3 linked regions of the Homo sapiens genome follow. The protein of the gene in region 3 interacts with the protein of the main gene of each other region in a pairwise test. Each region holds a gene or a part of one and is shown on either strand. Other genes may lie near its edges. The genes, in order: TFF3, HNF1B and PCBD1.

What was found.
Region 1: the proteins of PCBD1 (region 3) and TFF3 interact in binary tests that used the Homo sapiens proteins (3 or more experiments, as listed by UniProt).
Region 2: the proteins of PCBD1 (region 3) and HNF1B interact in binary tests that used the Homo sapiens proteins (3 or more experiments, as listed by UniProt).

The regions. Positions count from the first base shown.
Region 1 is NC_000021.9:42,313,808-42,317,560, forward strand, and holds the start of TFF3 (trefoil factor 3 precursor), read right to left. Parts: upstream 1,603-3,753; 5' UTR 1,568-1,602; coding exon 1,486-1,567; intron 1-1,485. UniProt on the Homo sapiens protein: Involved in the maintenance and repair of the intestinal mucosa. Promotes the mobility of epithelial cells in healing processes (motogen).
Region 2 is NC_000017.11:37,731,387-37,735,139, reverse strand, and holds part of HNF1B (hepatocyte nuclear factor 1-beta), read left to right. Parts: intron 1-1,318; coding exon 1,319-1,583; intron 1,584-3,309; coding exon 3,310-3,545; intron 3,546-3,753. UniProt on the Homo sapiens protein: Transcription factor that binds to the inverted palindrome 5'-GTTAATNATTAAC-3'. Binds to the FPC element in the cAMP regulatory unit of the PLAU gene. Transcriptional activity is increased by coactivator PCBD1.
Region 3 is NC_000010.11:70,882,942-70,885,650, reverse strand, and holds the end of PCBD1 (pterin-4-alpha-carbinolamine dehydratase), read left to right. Parts: intron 1-418; coding exon 419-499; intron 500-1,602; coding exon 1,603-1,701; 3' UTR 1,702-2,141; downstream 2,142-2,709. UniProt on the Homo sapiens protein: Involved in tetrahydrobiopterin biosynthesis. Seems to both prevent the formation of 7-pterins and accelerate the formation of quinonoid-BH2. Coactivator for HNF1A-dependent transcription.

The sequences.
Region 1 (3,753 bases), on a different chromosome or scaffold from region 3:
CAGTCTGTTAAATGCTCAGCTCGGGGACTCTGGCCATTTGCCTAAGTGTCTTTCTCCTTGGCACGCTCTTATCACCTTCTCGGGAAGTCACATACGGACCTGGGTACCTTCCAGCTGGCAGGAACCCCTGGGGAATCTGGGGTCCCTTGAACCCAGAAACAAAGTTACCCTTCATTGTTTGACCAACAAAACCTTGCCCCTTTGTTTTAAATGAAAACCGTGACAGGAGAGGCACACGCCATAGAGATCATTGCAACGCATGCTGCCTGCTTTTCACTTTTTTCTGCATCTCCCCTTCCTGAATTGTTGAGCATGTCCCACCCTCCCGGGACATCCTTCAGTCCCCAATATTTTCATGTTTCAGGCAAGCCTCTATGTCTGTATGTGCAGCAGAAGTTCACTGCGTTTCATTAACGAACTGAGTATTTCCTTAGGAAAATGGCAATCACGTGCAGTGTCTTACATTCCCTTCTCTTGCTCCCAGTCCGTAATTGCTTATCCTCCTGGCATCCAAACTTCGCTCACACTGGAATCAGCTGCAGAGCTTTAAAAATGACTGACGTTGGCTGGGCATGGTGGCTTACACCTGTAATTCCAGCACTTTGGGAGGCCAAGGCAGGAGGATCACTTGAGGCCAGGAGTTTGAGACCAGCTTGGCCAACATAGCGAAACTCCATCTCTACTAAAAATCCAAAAAATTAGCTGGGCATGGTGGTGCATGCCTGTAATCCCAGCTACTTGAAGCCGAGGCACAAGAATTGCTTGAACCCAGGAGGCGGAGGTTGCAGTGAGCTGAGATTGTGCCACTGCACTCCAGCAGTGAGTGACAAAGCAAGGCTATCTCAAAACAAAACAGCTGAGGCCTGGATCTTGCCTGGAGATGCCCTGATGTAACTGGTGTGCCCCAAGCATTAGGATTTTTAAAGCTCTCCAGGTGATTCTAATGGGCTGCAAGTTCGGGAACCACTGCCTTTGACCCTGCTCAGAAGACACCCAGATAAAAGCCATGCCCTCATTCCTTCAAACTTGGGTTAATGGAGCAGCCACACCCCATGGCAGGGTTGCTATGCAATGGCTAAATGAACCTTGTGCCTGCCGGTATTGACAGTGTTCTGAAGTCAGGGTTTTTCTCCTGCATCTTTCCTTTTTCTTTGTAAATGTGGAACAATGCATAAAGACCTATATTGTAATTTAGAAATCTCCAGCAAAGATGGCTATGGGGTCATAGGGGATGGGCTCAGGCTCAAACCCTGATTTCAACACAGACTGGGCAGGGCTGCCTTGGATAAGTTGTTAACTTTCTCTGAGCCTCGGTTTCCTTGTCTGTGAAATGGGGACAATAAAGACCCACTTCAAAGGGCTAGCGCAGGAAAAAGTGTATATGTGACAGGTGGCCATTATTAAATGAATGCAGAATCCCCCCTTATCCTGGATCCCTTCCCTTCACGCCCACCCTGCCACCGGGGCAGTCAGGGCAGTACTCACACAGGCCCACGTACTCCTCAGCAGAGCTGGAGGACAGCAAGGCCAGGACCAGCCCCAGCATGCAGAGCGCTCTGGCAGCCATGACCACCGTGGGCTCCGGGACGCAGCTCAGGACTCGCTTCATGGTCCAGGAGGCCTCATTTATGCACCGTTGTTTGCACAGCTGCTCTGGATTGTTTGCTTGGGGAAGGCTCTCCCTCCTGGCTGTGGCTGCTCCTGTTCTCTCCTGCATGCCTTTGTCAAGCTCCCAGACAGTTTTTCTCTCCCAAAGGGGAGAGGTCAGTTCAGCCCCCACTGTTTTGGCAGCAAGCGGTAAGGGCGGATTCCAGTTCTGGTTCCGGGTCCTCTACTGGGGAGCGGATGTGTGTCAATTGCCCTCCTAGCCTGGCCTGGTGTAGTGTGCAGGAGCCATGTGGGGTGGCAGGACCAGGGTGTGGTGTCCGTTCCATCTCAGCCTCCCAGCCAGAAGCCCTCAGAACACCCCTGGTCCCATGACAAGAGAGCCCCAGGCTGCTTCATCCCAGATCGGCCTCGGAGACAGGCAGCTCTGAGTGAGTCAGGACCCTGCGGCTCTCTCACAACTCCTGAAACACAGAGATTCCTTGTCTTTCCTTTTTGCTTTCTCCCCTAAAAATTAGTAACTACATTTTAATAAGTGGATGAAATGAATTGATTGAAAATATGTTAGTAAAAACATGGTACACATAATTGATTTTTAAAATCAAATAATACAAAAGAGCCTTTCCTATCCAGAGGCATCTATTGATCTATTGTGAACACTTTTTTAGGTATCCTTTCAGAATTTTTCTCTCTGGATCTAAGCACGTTTTTTTGGTTTGTTTTTGTTTGTTTGTTTGTTTTGTTTTTTTTTTGTTTTTTTTTTGTTTTTTTTTTTTGGAGACAGGGTCTTGCTCTGTTACCCAGGCTGGAGTGCAGTGGCACAATCTCAACTCACTGAGACCCCCGCCCTCGCGGGGCTCAAGTGATCCTCCCACCTCAGCCTCCTAAGTAGCTGGGCCACAGGCATGTGTCCAGCTAATATTTTGTATTTTTTTAGAGACCAGGTGTCGCCATGTTGGCCAGGCTGGTCTCAGACTCCTGGACTCAAGTGATCTGCCTTCCTTGGCCTCCCAAAGTGTCAGGATTACAGGCATGAGCCACTGCACTCGGCCACATTTTTAACACAAACAGGAACTGACTCTCCACCTTTGCCCAGCGTGCTCTTTTAAAAACTAAAGACTACATCTCAGGAATTGTTTTATAACAACATATCAGATGAGACAGCGATGATTCTATCCATTTTCCAGAGGAAGAAACTAAGACTCAACATTTCCGGTGCCTATCAGAGGTTACTCCAGTGTCCCTGGTATAGCTGGTATTTAACCCACTCCCAGGACCCTAAGCCTCCGCCCTCGGCATCCGCAGCATCCCCCAACCCCCCAACCTCCTGCAGTGGACTGGCTGGTAGTGGGCAAGAGACTAATCTCATTCCAGGAAAACGGGCCCCTAGATTTTGTGTTCTCCGTGTTTCTTTTCCAGGGAGGCATTTTGATGACCCCCACTGGCCCTTCCAGGAGCCTCTGTCTGAAGGGTGGACTTGGTTTATCACCCCGAGAAATGGGAGCGCCTGGCTGCTTGGATTTAGCCTGCAGCTGGGGTCCCCGGTGGTGTGTGCAGGGCGGCCTTGAGCCTCCAAGGGTGCATCCACAAACTGCCCTTCCCCGAGTGACCCATGGGAGCTCGATGGCGTACGTGCTGAGCACCAGGATGTGTCCTGCCCTGTGACTCCCAGGCCCCGCCCTTGCGCTCAGCACGCCCTTTGTGGATGGATTTGAGGGCCCCTGGCCTCTGATGTGCCACTCCCGCTGAGGCCAGCGAAGGAGGAAGAAGGAAAGAGCGTTGCCTGCCTTGTTTTCGGGGCACTCACTTTTTCTGGGAGACAGCGGACCCAGGTTCATCAATGGACAGCAGGATTTTCATGTTATTAAAAAGGTCATTGTAGGGGAAATCCCTGGGGGATCTGGTGAGATCTCCCTGGGGGATCTGGTGAGATCTCCCTGCCTTCCCACTGCTCCTAGTACCCAGAGGCCAGGCCAGGTCGTGGTGCAGGGCTGAGTTCCAGGAGGGTGCAAACACCCCAGGAACAGACTGCTGCCCCTCCGGCCCTCATGACCTGCTGGGGAAGGACCCCCGCAAGGAGCTTCTGCAGGTGCTGTGGTCTCCACCTGCTGCACTCAAAATTGCCTGGAGTGGGGAGAATATCAATGC
Region 2 (3,753 bases), on a different chromosome or scaffold from region 3:
TTCTGTGACCTGTGGGAGTAATTACAGGAACTGAGAAAGAAAGTCATCAAGGTCGGGCACGGTGGCTCACACCTGTAATCCCTGCACTTTGGGAGGCTGAGGCAGGTGGATCACCTGAGGTCGGGAGTTTGAGACCAGCCTGCCCAACATGATGAAACCCCATCTCTACTAAAAATACAAAAAATTAGCTGGGCATGGTGCCGCACACCTATAATCCCAGCTACTCAGGAGGCTGAGGCAGGAGAATTGTTTGAACCCGGGAGGCGGAGATTGTAGTGAGCCGAGATCACACCACTGTACTCCAGCCTGGGCAACAAGAGGCAAACTCTGTCTCAAAAAAAAAAAAAAAAGATATTAAGATCCAGAACATAGGGACCCAGAGCTAGGAGATGAATGTATTACGTGTCTTTGCTCAGCAGAGTGCTTAGCCTCCATGTTTATTCATCTTTAAAATGGAATTAATCACTCCTGATGAGCCCTGCTTCATGCAGATGTGAAGACGAGGACAGCAAAGCTTTCTTCTTCGGTAATGTAGATATCAAATCTCATTAAACCATGTGGGCTAAGGCATCACCTCTGGGCCGAGCTGCTGGTTCTCATTCATTCCACAAAAATCTCCTGATGGTCACAGTATGCCTGGACTCAAGGAATTGGACAGACAGGGAGCATCATTTCCAGCTAATTAAACACTACTCCCAGACAGGTCCTGTGTTTGTAGTCTTTGAAATTATTTTGAGATCTAAAGCACATTTTCTTTTTCCAATACAAAGCTCCAGTTATATTTATTTCAAAGCATGTTCCAAAAGGTTTGGGGTTTTTCTAAAAACCTGACTTTATAATGTAGATACCTAGGATATAGGAAGAGGGAGGAGAGGTGGGGAGTGCTATCTACAGCCTCTGAATATTTTGTGCAAGTGTAAATTGTACCTTTGAGCAGTTCTCCCCTGGATGTGAGACTTGATTGAGCTCACCCACTTGACATCAAATACAGGAGTTCAGGATGCAGAGTGTTGCTTCATCTCTGAAGGCCAGTGAGCCAAAGGGGAAAAAATAATAATTTTCTTAAAACTATAGCTGGCTATGTTTGAGCTCCTTCAAAGAAAGGAAAAGGGTGGCTTTGCTGGAGCAACTGAGGTGGGCAGTAAGGGCCTGTGCTGAGGGCTCCCCATCTCCAGCTCCACATGCAGTGAGAGAAGGTTGCAAAGCTTAGTTAGACGAGGGGAATAAAGGTGTCTTCGTCCGTTGTCTGTCTGTCTGTCTGTCTGTCTGCTGAGTGAAGGCTACAGACCCTATCAAATCTACTCCTTTCTCTTTTCAGAATTCAACCAGACAGTCCAGAGTTCTGGAAATATGACAGACAAAAGCAGTCAGGATCAGCTGCTGTTTCTCTTTCCAGAGTTCAGTCAACAGAGCCATGGGCCTGGGCAGTCCGATGATGCCTGCTCTGAGCCCACCAACAAGAAGATGCGCCGCAACCGGTTCAAATGGGGGCCCGCGTCCCAGCAAATCTTGTACCAGGCCTACGATCGGCAAAAGAACCCCAGCAAGGAAGAGAGAGAGGCCTTAGTGGAGGAATGCAACAGGTAACACCACCAGAAGCTCACCTGGGCAGGTGGGCAAGTACACAGACCCAGGAACCCTCCCCTCGGTCCTGGGATATTGAGACACTAGTTATACAGATAAGTGTGGCTAAATCAGAGCTTCTCAAAGTATGTTCCACAGAACCCCAATATCAATTCATTAATCAGTAAGTCTGAGAATCAGCATATGGATACTTCCCCTTAGAGAGTCACAACATATATTAAAGGTTCCGAGAAGCCCTGCAGTCAAGAAACCCACTTAGCTTTGTTGAATTGGTTGTTAACTATGGAATCTTCGGTAGAGTACAAACAACCCCATGAATTATTCTTCCAGGGAAGATACTCTGGAGAATGCTAATTTAAAATATGATACTTGGGAAGCGAAATTGTGTGTTTGACCTCCCTGCAGGCCAGGGTAAAACTTTCCCTTAGCCACAGACTCTAGATCTGGCCTCTACCAATTGTCAGACATGCAGTGGTCCAAAAGGAAACTTGGCAGGAGAGTAAGAATTGGTCAGATCTGTTCAGTCCACTCTGCCCCCGCTGACTCAACAGAGTTCTTTTTACTTGTTAACTACCAGCCAGGCACGGTGGCTCACACTTATAATCCCAGCACTTTGGGAGGCCGAGGCGGGAGGATTGCTTGAGCCCAGGAGTTTGAGACCAGCCTGGGCAACATGGTGAAACCCTATCTCTATTTAAAAAAAAAACAAAAAAACAAAAAAACAACTCTGTGTTATTTTAAGTATTTATTTTTAAAATGTGGTCTTGCTATGTTGCCCAGCAGATCTTGAACTGGGCTTAAGCGATCCTCCTGCCTTGGCCTCCTAAATAGCTGGGATTACAGGCTCTAGCCACAGGGCCCAGCTATTTTTTTTTAAACGATTGGAAAGCCTTGGGAAATCTTTTTACTTCATTCCTGCCCTGTTCTCCCTGACTCCAGTATTGACTTTCTAAAACTTCAGCTCTTTGGTCTGGCCAAGGCCTGTGTGCGCTTTCTCTGTCTCTGGGCTGGGCTGGCCTTGGCTGTGGGAAGAATGCAGCCAGGGAGGTCAGGCTGGGAAGCAGGGAGGCCTGTATTGCCACTGAGTCCTCAGGCTGTGCTCCATACCCCGACTAATGAGATGCCTTGCAGCACCCAGTAGTGTCTAAGAATCTCTCGCACCTGGTTTTGAGGTTTCACCAGCCCTGATAAAGCTAGAGACTGGCCATCTCAATGCACCCTGCTTTGTACCCCACCCAGCCTGCCTTTTGGAGGGGATAAAGCATCTTGCTTCCTGGCACTCTTTCAGGGAGTTCAAGCCCCAAAAGACCAGAAATCCTCTCGAAGTGCTTTGAAGCCACTCAAGACAGAGCCAGCGAAGGGCTTTGCCTTTTATGTGGTGGGAAGAATGGCTAAATAAGGAAGCCCCATCTGGACCTTCCCCTGGACTGCCTGTCCCCGGCTTGCTCTCTTCTCCTCGAGAGCCACACCAGAGCCTAAGCCCCTGACTCCCAGGGCGGCATAGCCTGCTCTGTCCCTGCGTTCAGGCCCACTTCAGCCATCTTCATCAGATCACTCCATGGATTGGCCTTTTCTCTGCATAGGCCTCTCCTCCCCAGCCTTCCATTCTGCCCACGGCCCCTTCATACTCCCAACCAAGACTGCTGTGATTGTGTGTTTTTGGCCAAGCACCAACAAGTCCCCCCGCCCCCCCTCACTCACCATCTCCCCTCCATCCATTCCCAGGGCAGAATGTTTGCAGCGAGGGGTGTCCCCCTCCAAAGCCCACGGCCTGGGCTCCAACTTGGTCACTGAGGTCCGTGTCTACAACTGGTTTGCAAACCGCAGGAAGGAGGAGGCATTCCGGCAAAAGCTGGCCATGGACGCCTATAGCTCCAACCAGACTCACAGCCTGAACCCTCTGCTCTCCCACGGCTCCCCCCACCACCAGCCCAGCTCCTCTCCTCCAAACAAGCTGTCAGGTAAGCAAAGGTTGGGCCTCACTGCCTCGGCAACCCAACCATCCTGGTTCTTGCCACGGATCTTATCTGGTTTAAGGGTTTTCAGAGGAGCAAACGCTTTTGAGATGATCCTAGGGCCGCTCTCTCATTGCCAGAATATACTCCCCTGGAAATAATGTGTGGCTCTGATCAGTTTCCTCCAACTCCTGGTTCAGCCATTGCCCTGTGA
Region 3 (2,709 bases):
TAATTTTCCTGTCTAACTCAGAAAGTATCATCTTTGGGGATTGGAGAGCCATAGGAGGATGTGTCTTGGGCTCTCCCTTCCTGGAACTTTTAGCAGCAGTCTTCTGAGGAGATAGTTCAAGTGGAAACCATGCACATCTGAAGACATTTGAACAGACGGCCAAGACTGGCCAGGCCAAAAGCCTGTTGTGGTGTTTCCACCTTGTTGACATCCTAAATAGCAAGACTTTCTTCCTACTGCAAGGACAATCTCTAACTCAAGCCTGAGAACCAGTGACAGGATGTCAAGGGGGAAATGATTATAGAGGAGTCTCCTGGGGGGAAGCTAATTCATCCTCCTGCGTCTAGGCCTTGAATTGGTGATGTCCAGAAGTCCTTTCTCTTAGAACACTAACCTGGCTCTCACTCCACTTAAATAGGCCTTTGGGTTCATGACAAGAGTGGCCCTGCAGGCTGAGAAACTGGACCACCATCCTGAATGGTTTAACGTGTACAACAAGGTGAGTGATGCTGTGTGCCTCTGTTGTGCTCTGCCCCCATCCAAATACTGCGAACTCTGACACATTCTGAAGGCTTTTGGACTTAACAATGAGCCTTCCTGACCCATAGGTCATCCACTCATCTCATTTCCAATCTCACTGAGATTGCACATGCCTAGAATCAACATAAATACCCCTGGGAAAAAAAAATCAGTCTTACTATAAAGAAATGCAAATTAAAAGATGCATGAGATAGTTGTGGTTAAAGTAGACATTTAAGTAGACATTAAGAAGGCAAAACCCAAGAAAGGAAAGGCTGTGGGAATCAGGCATACTTATTCAGTGTTCATAGCTCTAAATGGCTTTAATCTTGCTGGAGGTATGGAAGAATGAAAAAGTAATAAACTTGAACTAAGAATACACACATATTTGGGAGGCCGAGGTGGGCAGATCACGAGGTCAGGAGATCAAGACCCTCCTGGCTAACATGGTGAAACCCTGTCTCTACTAAAAACACAAAAAAATTAGGCGGGCGCGGTGGTGGACGCCTGTAGTCCCAGCTACTGGGGAGGCTGAGGCAGGAGAATGGTGGGAACCCGGGAGGCGGAGCTTGCAGTGAGCAGAGATTGAGCCACTGCACTCCAGCCTGGGAGACAGAGCAAGACTCCGTCTCAAAAAAAAAAAAAAAAAAAAATACAGACACATAGCCAACCTATCAAATTATTTGCTTAATGAATAGAAACAGTCATTAAATGTCTACCATGTGCCAAAAGCTCTGCTGGTCTCTGTTTATAAAAACAGTAAGGGTGGAAGAGGTCGTCTATGAATGGATAGTGTTTAGGAGTTGGCATTGGTTTTTGGTTTTGTCTTTAGCTTTTAGGTTGCTCTTGACATTCAGATATTAAGCTTTTATTCTATAGCTGAAGTCATGATTATTTTTGAGAGACAGCAAAGGGGAGATGTAGAAGATGTTGTTACAGACATGTCAGGAAGGAGTCCCCAGGAGAGATCGTACTGGCCAGCTGCTATTCTGGAGCTCCTAGCAGGGCTGAGCCCAGCAGCTAGTGACTCCCTCCTGTTCTTAAGTGAAGTCAGTGGAAGCAGAATTTCTGGTTTCATTTCAGGTCCACATCACGCTGAGCACCCATGAGTGTGCCGGCCTTTCAGAACGGGACATAAACCTGGCCAGCTTCATCGAACAAGTAGCAGTGTCCATGACATAGACCCTGCCCTTCCTCTTTGAATTCTTCCGGGGGAAGGGGTGACTGAACTGGGAGTCCAGGGAGGGAGCTGAGGAGCCCTTACCCTCCCACCACTCCCCTCCCAAGACCCAGCCGCCGCCGTTGAGGGCTGAGTCCTTGCTGTGGGATGTGCCAGTGTCCCCACCAACACCAGGAATTTAGACCTTTTCCCTGCACCACTCTCTTCATCCTGGGGGCTCTGTTACACTAATTTGAATAAACTCTCCCCTTTCTTTGCAACTTCCCAGCAACAATAATGATTTTCTTGCCAGGCCGTCTCTTGCTCCCTAATTCATTTCCCAGGAAGCTGTGATACAGGGTGAAATAAAGTCTTGTCTTAGAAACCAGGACCCTAAACCCCACACTATGTAATAGAAACACATGTGTTTTTATGTCTCAAATAAAACTATTATATCACTTGGTCTCAGGCTCTAGAAACTTCTTTTCCACAGGTCAATCCAAATTGGAGTCAATAGGCATTTAAATGAAAGCACTTCCTCTGTGCTAGGCACTTCCTCTGTTCAAGGTACTGGAAAATGACAGGGACCAGACCACCTTGCCTTCAGATTCATTATCATCTAGGGGATACCATTTGATTATCATCAAACAGGAACACAATTAACTATTACCAATTACCAATTAACTAGTACTAATTAACTATTACTAGAGTGAATTAATGCTAGGTGGCAGGATAAGAAATGAGCTAAAGGGAACGCAAGTGATTAATGGTGAAAAGGGCAAATCTGGAGGCTTTGAGTTATGCCTTGAAGACCTGGGTAGGATTCTTGGGAGGCAGAGATGGCTGAGAGAACACCATGAACACAGATAAGGGTGTGAAGGGCACAGGTATTATATGCATTGTGGAACCTATGTCTAGAAAGGCAGTCTGGGGCCATATTACAGGTTGAACATCCCTAATTTGAAAATTGGAAATCCAAAATCTGAAACTTTTTGAATGCCAACATGATGCCCAAAGGAAATACTCATTGG